Regions from separate parts of the Homo sapiens genome. Here regions 2, 3 and 4 are each linked to region 1. Evidence: fine-mapped expression QTL. A gene starts in region 1. Each other region holds a variant in brackets. All regions are shown on one strand. Distances are from middle to middle.

Region 1 (6,054 bases):
TTGGAGTGCAGTGGCGCAATCTCGGTCACCGCAAGCTCCGCCTCCCGGGTTCACACCATTCTCCTGCCTCAGCCTCCCGAGTAGCTGGGACCACAGGCGCCCACCACCACGCCCGGCTAATTTTTTGTATTTTTAGTACAGACAGGGTTTCACTGTGTTAGCCAGGATGGTCATGATCTCCTGACCTCGTGATCCGCCCGCCTCCACCTCCCAAAGTGCTGGGATTACAAGTGTGAGCCACCGCACCCGGCCTCTATTAATATTTTTTAGTTATACTTCATGTGTCTACATTTTCATTCCATCATGAGCTCCTTGAGGACAGTGCTTAGGTGATATTTATCTGTCTTCTGACACTGAGTTTCTGCCATCCAAGCAGAAAAGGCTCAATAAAAATGTATTGAATCGAATAAATATTTGTAATTCACATGACAGACAAATGCATAATGCCGAAGCAACTGTTTATTTCCCCTTATCAATAAATGTCAGCATTGTTTTCTCCTTTCCTTGCTTTCGATTTCCTGTAAAAACCTGATGGTGACTGGCCAAGGAAATATCCTTTTTAAATTCAAATTTGGCAAACACACTGAAGACATGCGATAATCTTAATATATTCCTCGTAGGAATGTGAGAAGTGTTCAGAGCAAAGGGCTAACATATTTAGAGGTCAAAAAATTGATTCCAGGCTGGACGCGGTGGCTCACGCCTGCAATCCCAGCCCTTTGGGAGGCCAAGGCAGGTGGATCACCTGAGGTCAGGAGTTCGAGACCAGCGTGGCCAACATGGCGAAACCCCATCTCTACTAAAAATACAAAAATTAGCCAGGCATGGTGGCACGCGCCTGTAGTGCCAGATACTCGGGAGGCTGAGGCAGGAGAATCGCTTGAACCTGGGAGGCAGAGGTTGCAGTGAGCCGAGATCGCGCTACTGCACTCCAGTGTGGGTGACAGAGCGAGAGTGTGGGTGACAGAGCGAGACTCTGTCTCAAAAAAAAAAAAAAAAATTGATTCTAGTCAATAGGTATTTATTTTGGGGAGTAAAGAGATGGGAAGAATTAGAGAAAGGAAGAGGAAAAACAAAAATAAATAGCATGCAGATAATGAGAAAATAGACTCATTTTTACAGCTGTGAGCTCAGACTAAAAGATAAACAATGCTATTACTTTGGAATATAATTCTAATAACACAAAAAAGACTCATAGACCACAATATGTATTTATTTTGTGGCAAAGGTGTCATTTTTAGAAAGAAACAAATGTGTTCAATTTTGCTTTCCCTGTTTTTAATGAATTAAGAAAGGTCTTCTCTTACCTTCTTTTGACTGTCATCATTCCTCTCATCCAGGAATATTTACAGGTTTGCAAGAAGACACCATCTTTAAGTAGTTTTTAGGCACTTTTACAATACTGACTAAATTGTATAAAATAGTATTATAAATTAATATTTAAATTATAATTTTATGACGTGAAAATCAACAACGAATGTCAATTTCACTTCGTTTTGACTGTCATCTGTGGCCTCTGGAGTCCCTCACTTAAATCATTGGTCCTTGGTTTTATTTTTTAAGCCTATTAAAAAGGAGGATGGGGCCGGGCACGGTGGCTCACACCTGTAATCCCAGCACTTTGGGAGGCTGAGGTGGACAGATCATTTGAGGTCAGGAGTTGAAGACCGGCCTGGCCAACACCGTGAAACCCCATCTCTACTAAATATACAAAAAAAAAAAAAAAAAAGTACAACAACAACAAAAAATTAGACGGGTGTGGAGGCAGAGGCAGGAGAATTTCTTGAACCTGGGAGGCAGAGGTTGCAGTGAGCTGAGATGGTGCCACTGCTCTCCAGTCTGGGAGACAGAGCGAGACCCTGTCTCAAAACAAACAAGCAAACAAGCAAGCAAGCAAACAAACAAAAAACAAGTTGGGCATGGTGGCTCACCCCTGTAATCCCAGCACTTTGGGAAGCCGAGGCAGGCGGATCACCTGAGGTCAGGAGTTTGAGACCAGCTTGGCCAACATGGCGAAACCCCATGTCTACTAAAAATACAAAAATTAGCCGGGCATCGTGGCGCCTGCCTATAATTCCAGCTACTCGGGAGGCTGAGGCAGGATAAACTCTTGAACCCGGGATGTGGAGGTTGCAGGTTGCACGTGACATAGCCGAGATCGCGCCATTGCACTCCAGCCTGGGCAACAAAAGCGAAACTCCATCTCAAAAAAAAAAAAAAAAAACAAAAAAAACAAAAAAACCCAGAAAAACAAAAAAACAACAAACAAAAAGGGAGGATGGTAGATAACTGTCCAGATACTTTCCAGCTTTGCCGCTATATGAACTATTCCTTTTGTTTAGTTTTCAGCATGGGAGCTTCTGGCACTTTTACGTACTTTCCAGCTTCTGGGGACCGGCTGCCTAGAATAACAGGCATTTGCCCCAGAGGCCGTGGAGTGGCCTCACTTTGGGGTCGTGGGCAGATCGCTGGCTCCCACGCCTGGACTTCGGGATCGCAGGCAGGATCCCTTCCAGCCCAAGCACTCCGCCCAGGCGCGCCAGGCAGAGCCCCACCCCATCCCGCCGTTCCCTTCAGCCCCGGGGCGCGGATCTTGCATCTGAAACTGAGCAGAGCAGGGCGCCGGGCAGGGCCGGCGGGCCACGTGATAAGCCCGGAAACAGCTCCGCCCCCTCGCTTCCTGAGCCGCCACATCCCGGCAGCCCTCCTACCTGCGCACGTGGTGCCGCCGCTGCTGCCTCCCGCTCGCCCTGAACCCAGTGCCTGCAGCCATGGCTCCCGGCCAGCTCGGTGAGGCCCTAGCGGAGCGGCGCGGTCTGCGTCCTCGCCTGCGGCCCCCCACGCTCCCGCCTTGGCGGCGGCCGGCGGGACCCGGCACTGCAGGGGCGGCGCTGCGGGATTGAAAGCCAGCGTCCCCGCTCCCCGGCCGGGCCGCAGCCTGCGTGGGGCCCGCCTTAGAGCAGCTCGCGGGTGTAAGACCTGGGGAGGCCCGGACCAGGCCTGCGAACGCAGGGTCCAGGTGCTGGCCTTGCGATTCGAGAATCTCCTCCCCCAGACCCTCCCAAGGCCTTGCAGAACACAGTGCAATGTGCTGCGAATCATGAGAAAAAATGTCTTCTCTTTCAGCCTTATTTAGTGTCTCTGACAAAACCGGCCTTGTGGAATTTGCAAGAAACCTGACCGCTCTTGGTTTGAATCTGGTCGCTTCCGGAGGGACTGCAAAAGCTCTCAGGGATGCTGGTCTGGCAGTCAGGTAAGGCATAGCTAGTTCCATCAGAAAGGAGTGTGATCACATTAACCAGGAAGTATTGTATTCCAGGCACCAGCAGCAAAACGCCTTATTTACTCCTCCCAGTAGCGCTGTGAGGTTGGTGTAATACTTCCCCACTTTATGGGGAAAAAAAGTGAGGCTCAGAGAGATTTAGCAACTTTTAAGACCCTGGACGGCTGGGCTAGGTGGCTCACGCATGTAATCCCAGCACTTTGGGAGGCCGAGGTGGGCTGATCACTTACGGTCAAGAGTTCGAGACCAGCCTGGCCAACATGGTGAAACCCGTCTCTACTAAAAATACAAAAATTAGCCGGTATGGTGGCACACGCCTGTAATCCCAGCTACTGGGAAGGCTGAGGCAGGAGAATCGCTTGAACCTAGGAGGCGGAGGTTGTGGTGAGCCGAGATGGCACTACTGCACTCCATCCTGGGTGACAGAGAAAGACCCTGGACAACACACTGGACAGATTTAGCATCTTCTGCACAAGTTTAAACAGTTGAGTAAGGGAAAAGTAGGATTGGAACCCGTGCTGTTCCTGATTTTAGGACACTAGTCTTAGCCCCTTCCTTAAACAGATTAACTTAGGTGGGCCACTTGTTATGCAAGGAAAACTTCAGTTACTTTGACTGGTGATTTAATAAAACTCGACATCATGAAGATTCCAATTTACCTGCCTTCCCTTAGAATCTCTGGTAACCATATGAAGGTGCAAATCATTCATTCCCACGTTCACAAGCCCTTCATTAGCTGACTAGGCCATGGAAAGAAGGGACTTAGAAATGATTAACCAGGATGCCATTGCTGATGTCAAGGAGTGGCATTCTGGGAGGAGAGGGAGGAAGTCTACTGAAAGGTAGAAAAATGAAAAAAACTATAGGATAGCTATTTAATAAACGGCAGTGAGAGTTGGGAGGAACGAGATGACCACCCCTGAAACATATTTTAGAATGAAAGAGATGAAGGATATCTGTCTGCTTTTTGTTGCCATGTGGAAAATTTGCTTCTTGGTTTCTAGATCCATGTAGAGGTAGGTTATTACCTTTTCTTTGTGCAGTTCCCAGCTATGTGAGCAGTACACAGCTTCCCTAAGTTTAACAAGTTCAGATGGTAAGAATGCCTTACTTTATTAACAAATACATAACTGTATATTTTCGGATGTCTTTTTGCGTCTTGTCTCTGTGGTTTTCATGGGAAACCTGTGAGAATCGTGGCAGGCAAGTTGGCTCTTTGCTCATCAGCAACCGAATGAGAATTCAAAGTCCAGACCTGCGTGCTTTCCATTGGGCCAAGTTGGGTCCTCCTATGGTAATGGAACCTTCGTAAAGCAAAATCCTCATCTGTAGTCTCTTTTTTTTCCCCACCAAACTTTGTATTATGGAAACATTTCAGACACAATCAAAAGTAGAAAAGTATAATGATCCCTTGGGTCCTATATCTGTCACCCACTTTAGGTACTTATCAACTGATTAGTCTTGTTTCTGTACCTATACCCACTCCTCACTTATCTTCATTATGGTCATATCTTCTTTAAAAACTGGAAATGTAAATGTGTTTCTCTTCTATGAAAGGATAAGAAGTTCACCATGAGTGATTTATTTAGACCCCAGCACAGTAAAGTTCACTGAATGAAATGTAAACAACTTGGAGCAATTGTTTTTTCTTCAACAAAGGCCACATTCAGTTGCAGTGGTATTTTATTCAGTTGCAGTGGTATTTTACATATATAAACTCTTATAGTCCTTATAACAACTTTTTAGTTTAGGTAGTGTTATCCTCATTTTATAGGTGAGGAAATTAAGCACAACGTAGTTAAGTAACTCGCTCGAGATTACACAGCTAGTTAAGAGGCCAAGATTTTTTTTTTTTTTCTCTGAGATAGAGTTTCACTCTTGTTGCTCAGGCTGGAGTGCAATGGCACTGTCTCAGCTCACTGCAACCTCTGCCTCCCAGGTTCAAACGATTCTCCTGCCTCAGCCTCCCAAGTAGCTAGGATTACAGGCGCCCGCCACCACGCCTGGCTAATTTTTTTGTATTTTTGGTAGAGACAGAGTTTCACCATGTTGGCCAGGCTGATCTCGAACTCCTGACCTCAAGTGATCGCCCGCCTTGGCCTGCTGGGATTACAGGTGTGAGCCACCGCACCCGAGGCCAAGATTTTGTAGGGGTGGAAAGGTGTGATCCTTTGCTCTCCATCGTAAACGTCACGGCCAATATTTTTATAAGAGAAGACAGGTTATAATAAGAGAAAAGCATAACAAATTTATTTAACAAAGTTTTACATGACATGAGAGCCTTCAGAATGAAGACCCAAAGACAGAGGAAAAACCATCCATTTTTATGTTTAGGTTCAACAAAGAATGGACAGAAAGGTGGAAGTATGATTGGACAGCAAGGATATGGTGTATGCTAGTAGACTGAGGTGGAGAAAGCCAGGAAAGCCTGTCTGTCCAGATTCTTCTTGGCTTCTCTAAAATTCTTTCTCCACCCCCTAAGGATCTCCTGACCTACTAATGGGCAAGGAGATGAGAGGATTTCTTTACGTCCAGCTCCTAGACAGAAAGCCAGTGGAAAGTTAGAATCATAAGTTTAAATCTTATGACTGGCTTTGGGGAAAAAGAGTTTTAGTTTCTGTAAACTGCCCTGGGGAAGAGAAATTCTCATTTCTGTGACTTCAGGGAAGAATGAAGGGTGAGAGGCAAGAGGGCAGGAGAAAGCTATATATATATATTTTTTTAGAGGGTTTTACTCTGTCACCCAGGCTGGAGTGCAGTGGCACAATCAT
Region 2 (6,054 bases), 90 kb after region 1:
CTTTTTATGATTGTTGGGATTTGACTTTGATGACAATAAATTTCCCTATATCGTCAGTGTAAAATCCCTTATAAAATGTAAAACTGGCCACCACAAACTGATTATCATATTGTTTCTTAACCATTAATTTAAGAACAATGGTAAATTATAGAAGGTGATCTAAAAACAGCTTTATGCTGGGCGGGGATCGGTGGCTCATGACTGTAATCCCAGCACTTTGGGAAGCCGAGGTGGGTGGATCACTTGAGGTCAGGAGTTCGAGACCAGGCTGGCAAACATGGTGAAACCCTGTCTCTATTAAAAATATGAAAAATTAACTGTCATGGTGGCTCATGCCTGTAGTCCCAGCTTCTTGGGAGGCTGAGACACAAGAATCGCTTGAACCCTGGAGATAGAAGTTGCAGTGAGCCGAGATCATGCCATTGCACTCCAGCCTGGGTGACAGAATGAGACTCCGTCTCAAAAAAAGAAAAAAAAAAAGCTTTACGCTGAATTATTCCACAATAATGGTCAGCTATTTTTGGTTGCAATAAAAGATGCTATATAAAAGTTAAACAAAATCTGCCACCATGGATGCACTTTGAAGTCTAAAGATTTGTACTTTAAATACGTGATTATTCTTTCAGAATAATACTGCAAAAATTTAGTATTTTATCACCAGAATCAGGAATTATAACAAATTTATTTTGCATTTTCTAGCATCCTGACATCACTGTTATTTTTCTTATTGAAAATATTACTTTGGCCAGGCGCAGTGGCTCATGCCTGTAATCCCAGCACTTTGGGAGGCTGATGTAGGTGAATCACTTGAGGCCAGGAGTTCAAGACCAACCTGGCCAACATGGTGAAACCTTGTCTCTGCTAAAAATATAAAAATTAGCCAGGTGTGATGGTGGATGCCTGTAATCCTAGCTGCTTGGGAAGCTGAGGCAGGAGAATCACCTGAACCTGGGAGATGGAGGTTTCAGTGAGCCAAGATCACACCACTGCACTCCAGCCAGGGTGAGAGAGCAAGGCTCCATCTCAAAAAAAAAAAAAAAAAAAAAAAAGAAAGAAAATAAAATTTTACTTAAACAATTTTTTTTTTGAGATGGACTCTTGCTCTGTCACCCAGGCTGGAGTGCAGTGGCGCAATCTCATCTCACTGTAACCTCAGCCTCCTGGGTTCAAGTGATTCTCCTGCCTCAGACTCCCAAGTAGCTGGGACTACAGTTGCCCACCACCACATCCAGCTAATTTTTGTATTTTTAGTAAAGATGGGGTTTCACTATGTTGGCCAGGCCAGTCTCGAACTCCTGACCTTAGGTGATCTACCCACCTCGGCCTCCCAAAGTGCTGGAATTACAGGCATGAGCCATCACACCTGGCCAAAAAAAAAAAAAATCTTATTTTTAAATAAAAGATTTGTTTTGGGTTTTAGCACCAAAAATAAGAAAGAAAGAAAGAGAGAGAGAGTGAGAGAGAAAGAAAGAAAAGAAAGAAAGAAAGAAAGAAAGAAAGAAAGAAAGAAAGAAAGAAAGAAAGGAAGAAAGAAAGGAAGGAAAGGAAAGGAAAGGAAGAAAAGAGAGAGAGAGAAAGGAAGGAAGGAAGGAAAGAGAAAGAAAGAAAGGGAAAGGAAAGGAAAGAAAAAGAAAGAAAGAGGCATGTATATATAAAGTTAAGATAGAGATTTCCAACAACCTTGCAAATCTTATTATAAATGTAGAAAGGTAAGATCGCAGAAGGCCAGATATTTTGAGTTGGGTAAGTTTAAGTTCAAGGGTATCAAGTGTGTTCATAGCTCTGGTCACATGTTTGACATCTCCACAATTCTTCCTCTCTTTACATCTCAATCAAATTTTGTTCCCATTGGGAAAAAACCTCTGAATGCATTTATACTAAATTATGAATGGCTGGCAAGACAAAGAATTAGTCTCCAGAGTTATACAAACAGGGATTAAAAAGTGTTCAGACTCCAGTCTCAACTCAACTCCAGTCAATTTTTTTTTCTTTGCCATGTGGGAATTTAGAATCAACATCGCAATTCTCGCATTTTTTTTTCAGTCTGGATTCTAAGGAGCCATTTTTTATTTTTATTTTAAAAATATTGTGTGAGAAAAAGCCAAATATATGTGTGGGCCACTTCATAATGATAGCTCTAATGGCTGAATTGAGGTACTACTGGTTTAGTGGGCTGTTTCATCTATGTATGTTATTATTTTGATGGTGTTTGGTGGGGGGTGGGGGGACATGACTGGGATGGGTGACCCGATGCCTTTTAGTACCTCTGAAATTATACACCACTTGACTGCTGGTGACTGTGCCAAAATGCCATGGCCAGCCCTGTGTGACCATTTTTAATGGCCCACAAAAAACAATTCAGAGAACAGTCAGTTTCTTTCACTGAACATCTGTGAAAACCACAACTTTTTTTACAAATTATATTCGCCTCAACTGTCCTGGGCTTTAAGACTAGGTATTTTCTATTGCTTGAGCCAGCCACCTAGAGTCTTCCCAAGTTTAAGATGATGCTCTCTGCCTGGGAAGGCCATTATGGGAAAATCACCAAACCACAAACCCACAAACGATGTCAAACAAAGGATGTGATTCTAAGTGTGAGCTATGGGTTCTGGCAGGTCTTGTTAGGGAAGAACAGCCCAGCTGTTAAAGAAATAAAATTTGCCCTATCAATATAAGACTAAGCTGAATTTTCCCCAGAAACAGCTTTTTCCCCTAACTTTTCTCACATTTGCTCTTAAGAATTTAGCACAAGTTATAAAACTCAGAAAAGTTACTCCCAGAATTCAGCTTAGTAAGATAGTAAAAAACTACAGAAATTTAGTAATTTCAAAAACATGCAAGCCTTGTGGATGTTTACAGCCTTAGGGAGTGCTTAAAGTTCAAATGGAGTTGTAGAATACCCTGCTTACATTAGTTTATTTAAATATAAGCTTCATTTAGCTGTTTTTATTATTATTCCTTTCTCAATTATCTATTCACCAAATAGTTTTTGAAAGCATACAATGTTCCAGACACTATGTTAACCTTTATCTAATAAAATTAGTTTTGGCTATCAGTACTTCAGTTAAAATCATTATATTTTATATGAATGTATTATGCAAAGCATAAAATAATATATCCAATATATCAGTCTTCAGAAGTACTTGAAATATCTTGGCCCACCACCTTCCCTTAATTATTGTTAGCATCATTAAAAATGCTTTTTCTTTTATAAGCACTGTGTTCAACAAAAGAAACTACATAAAATATGTCTCATGTTAAGGAATGAACAAGACAACTATAGAATTCTACATTTTAGTAAAAGACGACATCTACTGAAAGGGCGCATTCACTGAAATCTCCATTCTAATTCACTGAAGGACATTTATAAGAAATGAATATTTACAAGAAATATAAAGACATTAATTTCATGAGAGTAGATCTTAGACTATCTTAGAACCGTGTAAAATTTTAGCCAAATTTTCAAGTAAGCTTATTTGCAAATTAAAAGTGAATTTTACTTGCTTACGATTAACTATTATTTAGGAAAAAGCCTTCATGAGCCAAACTTCATACAGTAAATTTAAATGGAAGTAAGTTTTTCTTAAAGTATGAATTCTTATGGGGAAAAGTTTGTATTTTCTTTGGGAAATCAATTCCATAGTTATTTACAAACTAGGCTTGTATGGACTTTTTGAATGCTTTTTAA[C/T]ATCCATACTTTTAAATTAGTCGAAGAGTAACATTTGTTGAAAGCTCTTAGAAAATTGCAAACTAGTCCATGGTTAGAATATATGCTGAAAAAGTACTTATGTTAGGTGCTTCTATAATTCAAAATGTCGAGTTGAAAATAACAAATGATGTTCAGCTAGAAATAAGGAGTCTCATAATTCTCTGTAATGTAAATGGAAATGTATTTAATAGGAATCGGTTTGTGAATAGAGGTTGTTATTGTGATGTAGATATGTGGGAGATTTAAGACCACTTCCTTTAAAATGTTGAGCAAAAGGATAGACATGACCAAAAATTATTGTTAGTATTTTTCTCCTCTGAGGAATTTCAAGAGTAATTTAAGAAAAGAGCGATTCCGTCTGCAAAAGTACTTTAATCTTCTGCAGCCAACACTCATAAAGAAATCATTTCCTTGGCTTCATGTTCAATTAGTTGGTTCCCATTCAATCCATAGATATTTTTATTCTGCATTTATAGTTACTATTCAATGCCCAAAGTAATAGAATGTAGACATAGGTGCTAATTTTTTCTTGCGTTAACTAGTGTTTGGTAAATTCATTTAATGTAATCGAATTTAATTTTTCTAATAACAGACTGCTTTAAACCCATGTTACTCAAAGTGCTGGCCCTAGAGGAAAGAGCGAGCTTGGCAATGTGTGCAAATTAACACACTGCTTCCTTCATCAAGAAAATCTGGCTTCAGAAAAATTCTCAGCTGTACTAAGCAGTGTGCTTTGTGATTTACGTTCTGGCACAACCGTTTTTCTTGTTGCAGACTAGCAGCAAACAATTAACGGGCCAGCAGCCAGTCTATGGAGCACATTTTTAGTATCACTGATTTAAATTATGTACTAATTTTTTAATGTTTTTTTTGTTTTGTTTTGTTTTGTTTTAAAGCATGAAGAATAGAGAATGTAAATATAGTTAAGAAAAGGCACTTAATTTTCAGCTTACGTGTGGTAAAGACTCCAGTGGCTTTGGGGCTCTCTTGGTTGCCCTTTATGGCCACGAGGGATACGGTGTACTCAGATGCAGGCTGCAGATTCCTCAGTGGGTACTTGGAGACAGAGGGACCCACATTGTACTGCCTGGGCTGTCCTCTTCGGGTAAGGCCCACGGTCAGTCGGTATCCTGTTATCTGGGCCCGAGGTGGAGTCCATCTCACCAGGACAGTAGAATCAGTTTCATTGACAAACTGGAGGTTAGTGGGAGCATCCAGTTCTAGGAAAAAAGATGAAACATGCCAAGAAATATTTAGATCAGTAATGATCATAACTCAAGTCCTGAAACTTGATTGAATGTCTAAGTTTTCTCTCCTCAAGGTTGTAACTATGTGAAAGTCAAAACCCTGGAAAAACTGAGCCAGTAAGAGATTGAGTGCTACACAAAACTTTGCCAAAACTCTGCCAGTCATGAGAAATTGTGGAACCATTTTGCTTGACTGTGATCCTTTGGGAAGTCTAATTTTCCAGCAAGACTTTCGCATCAGTCTCAGAAATTATAGTTACATTAAAGCAATGGTATTTTTAAAAAGGCAAAACAAACACTTCTGAAGTTCACAGTTAGCTCTGAGCCAAACAGATTAAGGAAAAAGGGATATGCCTCCTAAAATGACAGCAAGAAGAAGCTCTCTATGGGTCAAAAGCAATATTCTGTGAATAGCCCTTTGCTAGAGAAATAAAAGTTATTTTCACATGGTTCAGATTAGACAGTAATTACAGTAATGATAACGTATCCTCAGATTCATGGTAGGATACTGGTGAGTTTGCACTATCAGAATCACATAAGTTGTGGAGTTTATTCTTGAGAATAATAACCAGCAGTTTTCCCACCGAAATTTAAATTACCTTTCAAATAGAGGAAATCTTTAAGAGGCAGTCGAGTATAATAATTGAGAGCATGGGCTTCGGACATAGGTTATAGAGCCAGCTCTATCCCTTCCTATCTCTGTGACCCTACAAGTTGCAGAACTTTTTTAAAGCCTCAGTTTCTTTAAGTATTCAATACGGATACTAGTAAGACCTTCCGGCTGGGCACGATGGCTCACGCCTGTAATCCCAGCACTTTGGGAGGCCAAAGTGGGTGGATCACTTGAGGTCAGGAGTTTCAGACCAGCTTGGCCAACACAGCGAAACCCATTTCTACTAAAAACACAAAAATTAGCAGGGCATGGTGGCACACGCCTGTAGTCCCAGCTACTCGGGAGGCTGAGGCAGGAGAATTGCTTGAACCCAGGTGGTAGAGGTTCCAGTGAGCTGAGATGGTGCCACTGTACTCCAGCCCTGGCGACAGAGCGAGACTCCATCTCAAAAAAATAAATAAATAAAATAATAATAATAAGACCTT
Region 3 (6,054 bases), 40 kb after region 1:
TGGGAATCATCCTCGCTCATACGAACCTTCGGCTCTTCCACCACTGATTTTACCACACACTGTTTTTTGGCTTGCTTATGTGTAGGTGAACAGTCACGCCTGAAACTTTGAGGATAACTTTTTAAAAAAATAAAACAGTATCTCTTAATCACTGGATCCATAGTTTTTGGTAGTTGTGTTTTATGTTAAAGATGCAGGCTCTTTGAACTGACACATGACACATAACACATAAATGAGGAATTCCAGAGCACCCCTGCCTACCGGAGCTCAGCCCATCCCACAGCACTGCCCGTGTGAAACATAAACATTAGCAGGAACCAAACGAGCTGAGCAGCCAGAGGACATGGCACAAGTCACTGTGTACAGGCCACACTTAAGGACTGGGAGTTATACCCATCTTAAAGGTGGAGTATTGATGTAAATTACCTAGAATTCTTCTGCATGGGAGTTGTATATTAAAGGTCCATGTTGCCTCCTAGGGGAGTCTTCTCATGCCGTTTTTGTTTGTTTGTTTTTCATTTTTTTAATTTGTTATTTTGAGAGGGAGTCTCAAAAAAATAGCTCTGTCACTCAGGCTAGAGTCCGTGGCACCGTCTTGGCTCACTGCAACCTCCGCCTCCCGGGTTCAAGCGATTCTCCTGCCTCAGTCTCCTGAGTAGCTGGGACTACAGGCATGTGCCACCATGCCTGGCTAATTTTTGTATTTAGTAGAGACAGGGTTTCACCATGTTGGTCAGGCTGGTCTCGAACTCTTGACCTCATGATCCACCCGCCCTGGCCTCCCAAAGTGCTGGGATTACGGGCGTGAGCCACCGTGCCCGGCCCTCATGCCATTTATTTTTAATCACACTTCTGAGAAGCTTGGTTGTCTACTTTCCAAACAAACAGCAGATTGGCACCTGTGAACTGGAACCTTAGAGGGGATTGGTTTAAGTCTTGTTGACCCCCTCTATGGATAATCTGATGTATATTTTTCTCAGTGCTAAGTGAAATGTTTCCCAGAATTTCAGCAGCCCGAGATTCACCCTCTGGAGCTGCATAAAAATGTAGTCAATATTTGGTGCTCAGAAATTGTACCCAATATTCCAATTACAGGCTTAATCACTACAGTGGGCACAGTGGGAGGGCAGTGCCTTCCTTCATCAGGACAGACCTGTGCATCTGTGTGTCCTGCCTGTGTGCTCCTGACCATTCCCGTGCATTGCACCTGTGTTCAACTAAAACCCTTTGCCATTGTTCACCTTTACCAATGAGTCCTACCCTCTTCCCAAGTCTTTAACTTATCCCCTTGCTAAATAAAAATTTCTGAAGTTTTTTCTTAATGGTCATCTTTCTAAGTTATTTCTGGTTAAGCTAATCTTCCAGCCCTGGCCTAGGACCTGCCCACATTGAAACAAGGCTGACTTGTGTGATCAGTAAAATACTGCAGAAAAAATAAGACTTTTGAGGCTAGGTCCTAATACATTGCAACTTCAGCCTTAGTTTCTTGGATTACTTCCTCTGGGATAAGCCAAGACCACGTTGTAAGAGTTAAGCAGCCCTCCACAAGGAGAGACGCCATCTTGCTTACACTAGTTGCCAGCCACATGAGTGAGCCATCTCAGAGGTGGATCCTCCAGCTTCAGTCCCAGGCAACATCTGGCTTCAACCTCTTCAGAGACCTGAGCCAGAACTGCCCAAAAGAGCTCTTGAATTCCTGACCCACAGATACAGAGAGATGCATACTGTTGTTAAGCCACAAAGTTCTGGGGTAATTATGTAGCAGTAAATAGCTAATACAGATTTTGGCTTGTAAATTAAGTGTGTGTTGTCTTTTTCATGGTTCTTTGGCTTGACCAAAGGTTAACATTAAGGGTATGATAATGGGAACAGGCTGAGCACTGTGTCTCCTGTCTATAATCCCAGCACTTTGGGAGGATTGCTTGAGGCCAGGAGTTCAAGACCAGCCTGGGCAACATAGCGACATCCTCATCTCTAAAAAAAGAGAAAATTTTAATTAGCTGGGCATGGTGGCTCCTGTTTGTAGTATTCTTCACATAGATGAAGAATAAATAAGTGGAGAATATGCAACTCCCATGCAGAAGAATTCTAGGTAATTTACATCAATACTCTACTGAGGGGTATAACTCCCAGTCCTTAAGTGTGGCCTGTACACAGTGACTTGCTTTCAAAGAGGAGAGTATAGAAATGGGAATAAAATAGTAACTACAGTGGAGAAAACTGACACTTTCTCAGCCAGATGATCAAGGTCAACGTCAATAGTGTCATGTTGCTAGGAAATACCTCAAAATAGGAGAATAGCACTTTACCTTTTTGGTCTTCTTTCCAAAACCCTGTACTCTCAGCTTAATCATGAGAAAAACATCAGATATAACCTAGCCGAAGGACTTTACAAAATACCTTCCTACTGTCAAGATCATCAAAAAGAGAAGCATGAGAAACTTTCATGCCTAGAAGGGCCTAAGGAGATGTGGTGAGTAAATGCAGTGTGGTGTCCTGGATAGCATCCTGGAACAAAAAAAGGACATTAGGTAAAAACTAAGAAAATCTAAAGTGTTTAGTTAATATGTATCAATATTGGTTCACTAATTGTAATAAATGTACCATGCTAATGTAAAATACTAATAAAAGGGGAAATTAGGTGTGATGTATCCTCACAATTTTTTCTATAAATCTAAAACTCAGAAAATAGGCCGGGCATGGTGGTTCACACCTGTAATCCCAGCACTTTGGGAGGCCGAGGTGGGTGGATCACCTGAGGTCAGGAGTTCGAGACCAGCCTGGCCAACATAGTGAAACCCCGTCTCTACTAAAATTACAAAAATTAGCCAGGTGTGGTGGTGTCTGCCTGTAATTCCACCTACTTGGGAGGCTGAGGCAGGAGAATTGCTTGAACCTGGGAGGCAGAGCTTGCAGTGAGCTGAGATCACTCCACTGCACTTCAGCCTGGGCAACAGAGCAAGACTCCATCTCAA[GA/G]AAAAAAAAAAATTAAACTATTAGAAAATAAAAAGCCTATTTTAAAAAGTATATAACCACATTCAAGTATCATACTAAAAGGATAAGTCATTTTGAATATCAAATACCCAGTCACCTTTAGATCTCTCCCAATGGCTAATTTTTTTTTTCTTTCAGTTTTTTGATTGTGCAACCCAAGCCTGGTACATCATTGCATTTGATTGGCATGTCTCAAGTATCTTCAACACCTGGTTTCTCCTCTTTAGATTTTTTTCTTGCAGTCGATTGACTGAAGATTTTTGGTCTCATAGTTCCCACGTGCTGGGCTGTGCCCTTGCATTCCTGTGATGTCGTTTAATTTGTGCCTCTGCTCCTTTCTTACACATTGATAGCCGTAGTTATGTAAATTTTTTTAGTTTGATTTGTTGAGAATTTAGAAAAAGGTTTTGAGACTTCCCTCCATGAGGATGAGTTTTCCAATTTCTTCCTGCAGGTTTATAAATGTTCACTTCCTATATATTTGAGGTTAAAAACACGGACCATGTTTAAAGTTATTATTGCTTTTGGTTTTGAGTTTTCTTTAATGCATTTTGTGAACCTTTCCCTTTGCGCTCAGCCTATTTGTATTCAATTATTGATACATTTGAGGCCTATTTTTACTATCCTGTAAAGTTTGACCCACTTTTATTTCCTTCCTTGACATTGTTTTGAATGTACGGTTGTATTTCCCCCCTAATAAGCTAAAAGCTTTAACTCCCAGTTTCTCCCCCATCACCCCTACCTACCCCACCCCATTCCAAACTCCTGTTGATTCCTGGACTTGGGGTCACATTTTCACTTAGCCTATTTTTTAAGACCAGACTTTCTAAGGTTTGTGTTTACCTTCACTTCATCTATCTATTGCAGTGCCTCCAGTTTCTCCTCTTGTGTTAACTGTGTGCAGTGTCTGTGTGATGAAGCTTCTGAGATCTTACATGTCTAAGGTTTTGTTGTTGTTGTTGTTGTTTTGTTTTTTGAGACAGATTTTCATTCATGTGGCCCAGGCTGGAGTGCAATGGCATGCTCTCAGCTCACTGCAACCTCCACCTCCCAGGTTCAATTGATTCTCCTGCCTCAACCTCTTGAGTAGCTGGGATTATAGGTGCACGCCACCACACCCAGCTAATTTTTGTACTTTTAGTAGAGATGGGGTTTCAGAATGTTAGCCAGGCTGGTCTCGAACTCCTGACCTCAAGTGATCTGCCCGCCTCGGCCTTCCAAAGTGCTGGGATTACAGGCATGAGCCACTGCACCTGGCCAACTAAGGATATTTTTATCATGCTTGTATATTTGAATTCATTTTGGCTATGCTTACAATTCTGGGTTTTAAATTCTTTAATACTTTGAAAACACTGTTTGGTTTTTTATTGCATCCATTGTTTATTTAAAATCTGATGTCAATCTGGTTCTTGTTCCTTGTCAGGAAACTTTTTTTTTGAGACAGAGTCGTTCCCTGTTGCCGATGCCCAGGCTGGAGTGCAGTGGTGTGATCTCCACTCACCACAGCCTCTGCCTCCATGGTTCAAGCGATTCTCATGCCTCAGCCTCCCGAGTAGCTGGGGACCACAGGTGTGCACCACCACACCCGGCCAATTTTTGTATTTTTAGTAGAGATGAGGGTTTCACCATGTTGTCCAGGCTGGTCTTGAACTCCTGGCCTCAGGTGATTTACCCGCCTCAGCCTCCCAAAGTGCTGGGATTACAGGTGTGAGCCACCATGCCTTCTCAGGAAACTAATTTTTTCCTGGGTATTTTCAAGCTTCTATAATGTGTTTAGGTGTGGGTGTTATTTGTATTTCCCTTTGTTGGCACTCTGGGTTTTTCATTCTAGGAAATTTATTTCTGTTCTTTGTGCTAATATTTCCTCTCTCCCATTTCTTCTGTTTTTTATCCAAATGTTAGCATTTCTAAGCAATTCCTATATCTCTTAGCCTTTCTTTTATATTTTATATTTCATTTTCTTTATTCGTCCCTCCAGGAGATTTCTTTAGTCTGGTCTTCTAATTTTCTCATGAATTCCTACAATGTATCCATTCTGCTGTGTGTCCTGTCTATTGAGCCCTTTATTTCAGGAGTTTTATTTTTCCCTTCAAATATTTCTGGTTTTCTTTTCCAATTGTTGGTATCATCTTTCTAGCTTTGTTTTACTATTTCTACTTCTGTTAGGATCTGTAATCTAGTATGTTACTATTCTTTTAAAGTCTCTTTACTCAAGTGTTGTGGTATGTTGGCCTGTGAGCTCATTTTCCCTGACTAACATTGGCTACCCAGCAGCGTGTGCTTGAGACAGCCCAGCTGATGCACTCCTCGCCAGCCCCAAGGGGTTCATGAAGGACAGGATTGAATGAACCCCGGGGAGGAGCACCCAAGCAATAAGAGCAACCATTCTTCACTCTGGAAAACGACTCAGTTTAGGGCTGTCAACAGCTCCTTTCTCATTTTACTGTCTCACTTCCCTGTGTTATGCCAAAAAAAGCAGTGTCCTGCCTTAAGCCAAAGTGCCACCCCTCACATGCAAGCTTACTCCTGGGTTCCTCATATTTTGCTCTGTGAGGTGGTGTTTTCCTTTATATGTACTCAAGTTAATCTTGGTGGAGGTAGCCAGTAACCAAGGAAGTTGAGCACTTTGGGAGGGTCTGGCACTGGAACCCCATTAACATATATATGTCTAGTATAATTCAATCATTCGAAACGTCAAGAGTGGAGTTTCACTGGTGTTTAAGTGAAATGCATAATGATCTTATGTCTGTTGTTTCCAGCAGAAGGACAGAAGATCCATAATGTAACAACGTCCTGACCAATACTGAGTGTATTTCTATTGGGGGATCCCCTGGGCACAGGGAGAAAACAGTCCATGAAAGGGATCCTCCATTCTTCCTCCCGTTGCCTTGCCCTTTGACACCTGCTTCTCTCCAGGCCACCTTTCTAAAGCCCAGCCTATGTCCCTTCCTCAGAGCACAGAACCCTGCAGGTCTTTAAGCTCGCAGTGCTTTCCATTCATGGACATTTTTATACCTTATTTTTGCCAAACACTGTGCCAGGCACAAATTTATCTTTAAA
Region 4 (6,054 bases), 830 kb before region 1:
TGGTAAATGGACAATCCTTTCCATAAAAATATCTTATTTTTTGATAGTCATAGTGTTTATCTTTTTAATGACCACAAAATTTTTACTTCATTTATTCTCCCTATTTATCTATTTGTGCCCTGTTGTTGGACTTTTGGACTATAAAACTTTGAATTTTTATCTCTTTTTGTACCCATCAAAAAGAAGCAATCAAAATATAAAATCTACTAACAGGTCCACTTTCTCAAGGAATTGACTGTTCCTAAATTTTTAAAAATAATCTGAACCAGGCATGGTAGCTTACGCCTGTTATCCCAGCAGTTTGGGAGGCTGAGGCAGGCGGATCACCTGAGGTCAAGCGTTCAAGACCAGCCTGGCCAACATGATGAAACCCCATCTCTACTAAAAATATAAAAATTAGCTGGGTATGGTGGCGGGTGCCTGTAATCCCAGCTATTCAGGAGGCTGAGGTAGGAGAATCGCTTGAATCCGCAGTGAGCTGAGATCGTGCCATTGCCCTCCAGCCTGAGCAAGAAGAGTGAGACTCTGTCTCAAAATAATAATAATCTGGATATAGAGCAAGAAGAAAGAACATTCAATCTAATAAGATTGTATTAGTTTTTAATACTTCACTGCACTTGGCCCTCTCTATCTGTGGTTCCGCATCCATGGATTCAACCAATGATGATTGAAAATGTAGTTAATCCTAGGATGGTTGTGTCATTAATGAACATGTACAGACTTTTTTCTTGTAATTACTTTCTAAATAATGTAGTATAACAACTACTTACACAGAATTTACGTTGTATTACATATTATAAGTAATATAGAGATTATTTAAAGTATATGGGAGGATGTGAGTAGGCTATATGCAAATATTACGTATACCATTTCACATAAGCACTTGAGCATCTGCAGATTTTTATATCCTTGGGGATTCTGGAACTAATGCCCTGTGTATACTAAAGGGCAAATGAATTTTTAAAAAATTCTTACTAATTCCTGATATTGTATGGTAATAAAAGAGATAATGTGAATTAACAAAACTAGAAAAAACCTAAAGTCCCAGATGTTTGTGATATGTTTTAAAGTTATGGTTGACTAAAAGCAAAGATGATTAAGTTTCCATGTCTGCATGATATTGGAAGATGAATGGACAATTACTTGATATGGATTCAATACATTCAGAATGGCTCTCTAATTGTAAAATGAAAGGAGATATGTTAGCATTCAGGTTCATCTGCGAATATTAGAAAAGCCCAAAGAATCACGCTCAGTTTAGAAATATCTATCTCTTGCACATTCAAGAAATCTAGAATAAATCAGTCCAGGGCTAGTGTAGCACTTCTTGGTGTCAGGGACCCAGGCTCCTTTCATCTTATTAGTCCACTAGACATGGTTTTCATTCTGGGGATAACTTCATGATCCAAGATGGCTACTGGAACATGAGTTATTACATCTGCACTCCAAGCTCCAGGAAGGAGCTTGGAAAATAGGCACACTCCCTTCCTTAAAGTACATCCCATTTGTCTACATCCCCCTGGACAGAAATCAGTCCCATGACCACACCTAACAGAATAAAAGGCTGAAAAAGTCTTCTTTATTCAGAGGTCCATATGCCAAGCCAAAAAAAAAAAAAAAAAAAAAAAAGGTAGATGTATTTCTGATGAAGAAAGAAAGAATGGATTTTGGAGGACAACTAGTAATCTCTGCTGCAAAAGATGAAGTGATTTGTTTACTATTATAACCTAAAGCCAAACTGAGCTAAAGTACTGAGCTAAGTGGGAAGAAGACTGTAGGGGCAGAGAAATGCAAACCTCCAAAGAAAAAAAATCAGCTTAGAAAATGGCAATAGGGATTCACCATAATAACACCAATGTCCTTCTCTGTCTACCTCCCTTTTCAATGTGACTCTGCTTTTCCCATTAAACAGAGGTGGAGTCGATTTCTCCACTCCCCAAAACTGGGCTGGCTATGAATTGCTTTGACAAATAGATTGCAGCAGAAATGATGTTGGGAGGCTTCTGAGGCTAAGCCTTAACAGATCTTACAGCTTCTGTTTTCATCATCTTGCAACACTCCTACCATTATGTAAGGAAGTCCAGGCTAGACTACTGAATTATGAGAGACTATGTGGAGAAAAAGGCTCAGCTGACAGCTAGGACTGGGATCTCAGACTCGTGAATGAGGCTATTTTTAGATGTTCTTGAAATCTGAGCTCTTTAGGTCTGAGCTGACAGCTGACTGAAGCCTTGTGAGTGAGCTCAAAAAAGACCAAAAGAATAACTGTCCAGTCAACCCCCAGAACTATGAGAAAGAACTAATCATTGTTGTTTAAACCCAGCAAGATTTGGTGTGGTTATACAGCAATACACAACTGATACATGGATATATTTTTAAGTAACCACAAATAATAGTTTGACATCTGATGTACCTAAAGATGCTGGTTTTTAAATTTTACACAAATTCTATAGTCCTGATGTTAAGCTGCATTACAAATACTGAAATATTGACTTACATTCTAATTTTGTAATATGATAGCATTGATCCCATCAAGTTTGCTCTTTTGAAGACATCACAAATACTTTATTGTATTCTTGAAAATAAAAATAACAGAAAGGTTTGTGTTCATTTAAGATGCCACTTCCCAGATACTGGTGCCTAGTATAATTTTGTAAATGTTCTTAGTTAACAGGGGAAAAGAAATGTTCAATACAAGGAAGACAATGCAATTAACGGAGAAAATAAAATATTGCTCAAAGCAAACCAACCCCTGATTTTAAAGCACATATTCCACTAAGGCAGACAGTATCATGATCTGGGATACTGATGATTGAAACATTGGCAAAAATATACGAAAATAAATGCAGCCACACTAAACATGGCAGAATAACTAAAATGAACAGTCGCAATAGGTCTAAAAACCAAATAGGAGTCTATGTACTCACAACCTTAAGAAAAGTGTTATTTGCCATAGGCCTTCATGCTCTTCGGTGCTCACCAATAGCATCTGATAGTATGCAGAAAAAAGATTTTTAATAATTCTAATGTGGATAAAGAAAATGTAAAGCAACAAGCTTCCTCCTAAAACACGCTACTCAATTCCTCCTCCCTCATAATGCCTTCTTGAGCCTGTGAACCATCCTTTCCATTACTGACCCCAGTACCAGCATGGAGAAAATTTTTTCTGTCTCTCCAAACTGGTAAAATATATATATACACATACACACATATATACGTGTATGTATGTATGTATGTATATATATGTGTGTATGTATATGTGTGTATCTATATATATACACACACACACACACATATATATATATATCTCTCCAAACTGGTAAACAAATATATATATTTACCAGTTTGAAGAGAGAGAAAAAAATTTAATATTAAAAGTTAATAAATAAATATATATATATATAT[T/A]TTTTTTTCTTTAATGGCCAGGCACTGTGGTATAACACCTATAATCCCAGCTACTTGGGAGGCTGTTTAGCCTGGGCAACACAGTGAAACTGCATCTCAAAAAAATAATAATAATAAGGTTTATTTAACATCAATTTCAGTCTACTTGATAGCCAGTTTGATGTTTGAATTTTTCCCCCTATTTCTCCCTAAGACCTATTGTCCTGGATTCTGAGCATCTGCCCCATTCGAGGGGGCGGGGCAGAAGTGTCAAAAGACCATTTGTTCTAAGAGTACTTGTGTGCAGTCTCTCAACCCATTCCTGGTAGCAAAGCAGCTACCCCTTCCTCCCTCTCCTTTGACCACCAGCAGCAGTTTGCAGGCAGTGAGCTTGCAATCAATATACTCTCCTTCTGCTAATATCCCTATCATATGAATGAGGAGGCTTGAAATGTGACATTCTAATTGACTGGTTGTTTAGCATGTCATGTAAACAGAACCTAAGTACTTCAGTTGAAACTAGCATTTCTGGTCACAGAGCCTGAGTTTTCAGCCCTACACCTTACTACTGTCTGGCCTAGATGGAGTGCAAACTAAGAGTACCAGCTACCACTACAATGTCCATGATGGCAAATAGATGGAGAGCAGGCAAATAGACTCTGATAAGCCATAATACAATAATCTGAGTTAATGGCTTAACTATTTTTTTTTCTGTTAGGCTTTCAACTTCAATTAGCATGATAAAAATTAGAATAATGTATCTGGCAAAAGCAAAAAAAAAAAGGAATTTCAAAGATTTTGAAAACTGCAGTGTGACAGTCAAGTCTTCAATTATTTGGTGAGTTGGTACCCAGAATATCAGTATTTCTCTCCTTCTGACCTCCAAAAATCTGTTCTCTTTTATCAATTATGGATTTCAAGACCCACAACACCTTGGAAAACAGCAATACGTTTACATTCAACTTAAATAGATCACTGCTTCCTGTGATGAGATTTAAGGTGACTTACAGCTAATTAGAACAAAAATAACAGTACGTGTGCTTGTCAGTAGGAAAGCCGTTTGATTTATGTATTAAAATGCTGCCATTCACGTTTGAGAATGAGACTCTTAACCTGCTGGCAGAGGTGGGATACTTGGGCTTTTGATCGAGGGATGGGGCTGCACAAGACAAGCCATGGTGAAGCAGAAGGGATTGGATTGGTTTTCTAGGGCTGCCATATCAAGGTACCATGAACTGAGTGGCTTGAAACCACAGAACATTTATTCTCTAACGGTTTTGGAAGATGGAAGTCTCAAATGAAGGTGTTGCAAGGGCCATCTTCCCTCCAGAAACTCTAGAGAAGAATGCTTCCTTGCTGCTTCTAGTTTCTGGCAATCGCTGGCAATCTTTGGTGTTCCTTGGCTTGCAGATTCCTTGGCTTGCATCACTCCAATCTCTGCCTGCATCTTCACATGGCCTGCTCCCCTATGCGCCTGCGTGTCTGCTTTTCCTTTTAATAAGGACACCAGTTACTGGATTAGGGCCCACTCTAATCCAATATGACCTCATCTAACTATTATCTGCTAAGACCTCATTTCCAAGTAAGGTCACATTTTGAGGTGCTGAATGGACAAATTTGGGGGAGTACAAGATTCAGTACAGTACAAGGATGCTAGGAAGAAAATCAACTAGTCTGAATTCTTTCCCAAGATTTGCCACTACCTAATTGTGTGACACTGGGCAACTCACTTGACGGCTCCAGGCCTCGGTACCTTGCCTTAAAAGGAAGGGCTTTGAACTAGATGTTCTCTGGGGGACTGCCAAACTCTAGCCACTAGTGGTTCCCTCATGTATTCAGTTTCAGCTCTCCCAATTTCCCCTATGAACAATGGCATACACTTACCACCCAGCTGGCTGAAGCAGTGATCATACGGCAGAACAATGGAAAATCATCTCCTGTTAGGTAGCTTAGTTAGAGAGACAGGAAGTTTCTCTTAGGCCTCTTTATGGGCTCAATTTTAAGATATGGCATCGGGCAGAAATCAATGAAGTTTTTAAAGCTCAAACATTTTATTTATTTCTACCATGTTTTATTTTAAAGTCCTTTGAAAAGGTTGCCTAAGACATGGTAAAAAGTGAAGCAACATGATAACATTTGTGTAATATTTTCCTTAATTTAATTTGGCCTTTGCAAGCTAAATGTTCTCACAAGTTCTTGGCATCATGATAATGTTGATATCAAAATTCCATACCAATGAGCTTTTAGGCAGTACCTTTTCTGAGCTCATCTGTATTTCCAGAGCATGGAAATGTATCATCATGAAAATGTATCATCATGAAAATTATTAAGGACCTGTTTGAAACTGAGACGTGAAGAATAAACACTTCTTACCTTTAGAAGTCTGTATCTGGCCGGGTGCAGTGGCTCATGCCTATAATCCCAGCACTTTGGGAGGTTGAGGCAGGTGGATCATTTGAGGTCAGGAGTTTGAGACCAGCCTGACCAACATGGTGAAACCCCATCTCTACTAAAAATACAAAAAAAATTAGCTGGGCATGGTGGTGCATGCCTGTAGTCCCACTACTCAGGTGGCGGAGTCAGGAGAATCTCTCGAACCTAGGAGGCAGAGGTTGCATGTGCCACTGTATTCCAGCCTAGGTGACAGAGCAAGACTCTGTCTTTAAAAAA

The links. PIP is the estimated chance that this variant, and not a neighbour inherited with it, causes the effect. A credible set is the group of variants that fine-mapping cannot tell apart.
Region 2: its variant is the best candidate, but not a certain one, in a credible set for the expression of ATIC in whole blood (INTERVAL, PIP 0.75).
Region 3: its variant is the best candidate, but not a certain one, in a credible set for the expression of ATIC in activated naive CD4 T cells (Schmiedel 2018, PIP 0.84).
Region 4: its variant is the best candidate, but not a certain one, in a credible set for the expression of ATIC in monocytes (BLUEPRINT, PIP 0.54).

What each region holds. Positions count from the first base shown.
Region 1 is chr2:215,309,372-215,315,425 of GRCh38, forward strand. It overlaps ATIC (5-aminoimidazole-4-carboxamide ribonucleotide formyltransferase/IMP cyclohydrolase), which reads left to right and starts at 2,688. Exons shown (of 16, transcript NM_004044.7): 1 at 2,688-2,790; 2 at 3,127-3,253. The coding sequence starts at 2,772. It overlaps LOC124907975 (a long non-coding RNA gene), which reads right to left and starts at 2,601. Exons shown (of 2, transcript XR_007088075.1): 1 at 1,308-2,601. RefSeq lists an enhancer at 2,392-3,042 and silencers at 2,573-2,652, 2,663-3,032.
Region 2 is chr2:215,399,727-215,405,780 of GRCh38, forward strand. It overlaps FN1 (fibronectin 1), which reads right to left. Exons shown (of 46, transcript NM_212482.4): 20 at 4,663-4,929. Among named protein-coding and RNA genes, the nearest start is that of FN1-DT, 33 kb to the right of the region's middle. The variant C/T (reference allele first, on the strand shown) is at 3,689.
Region 3 is chr2:215,349,609-215,355,662 of GRCh38, forward strand. It overlaps ATIC (5-aminoimidazole-4-carboxamide ribonucleotide formyltransferase/IMP cyclohydrolase), which reads left to right. Exons shown (of 16, transcript NM_004044.7): 16 at 1-156. The coding sequence ends at 47. Among named protein-coding and RNA genes, the nearest start is that of ATIC, 41 kb to the left of the region's middle. The variant GA/G (reference allele first, on the strand shown) is at 2,976.
Region 4 is chr2:214,479,260-214,485,313 of GRCh38, forward strand. The region is part of intron 3 of VWC2L (von Willebrand factor C domain containing 2 like); the gene reads left to right. Among named protein-coding and RNA genes, the nearest start is that of VWC2L-IT1, 28 kb to the right of the region's middle. The variant T/A (reference allele first, on the strand shown) is at 3,406.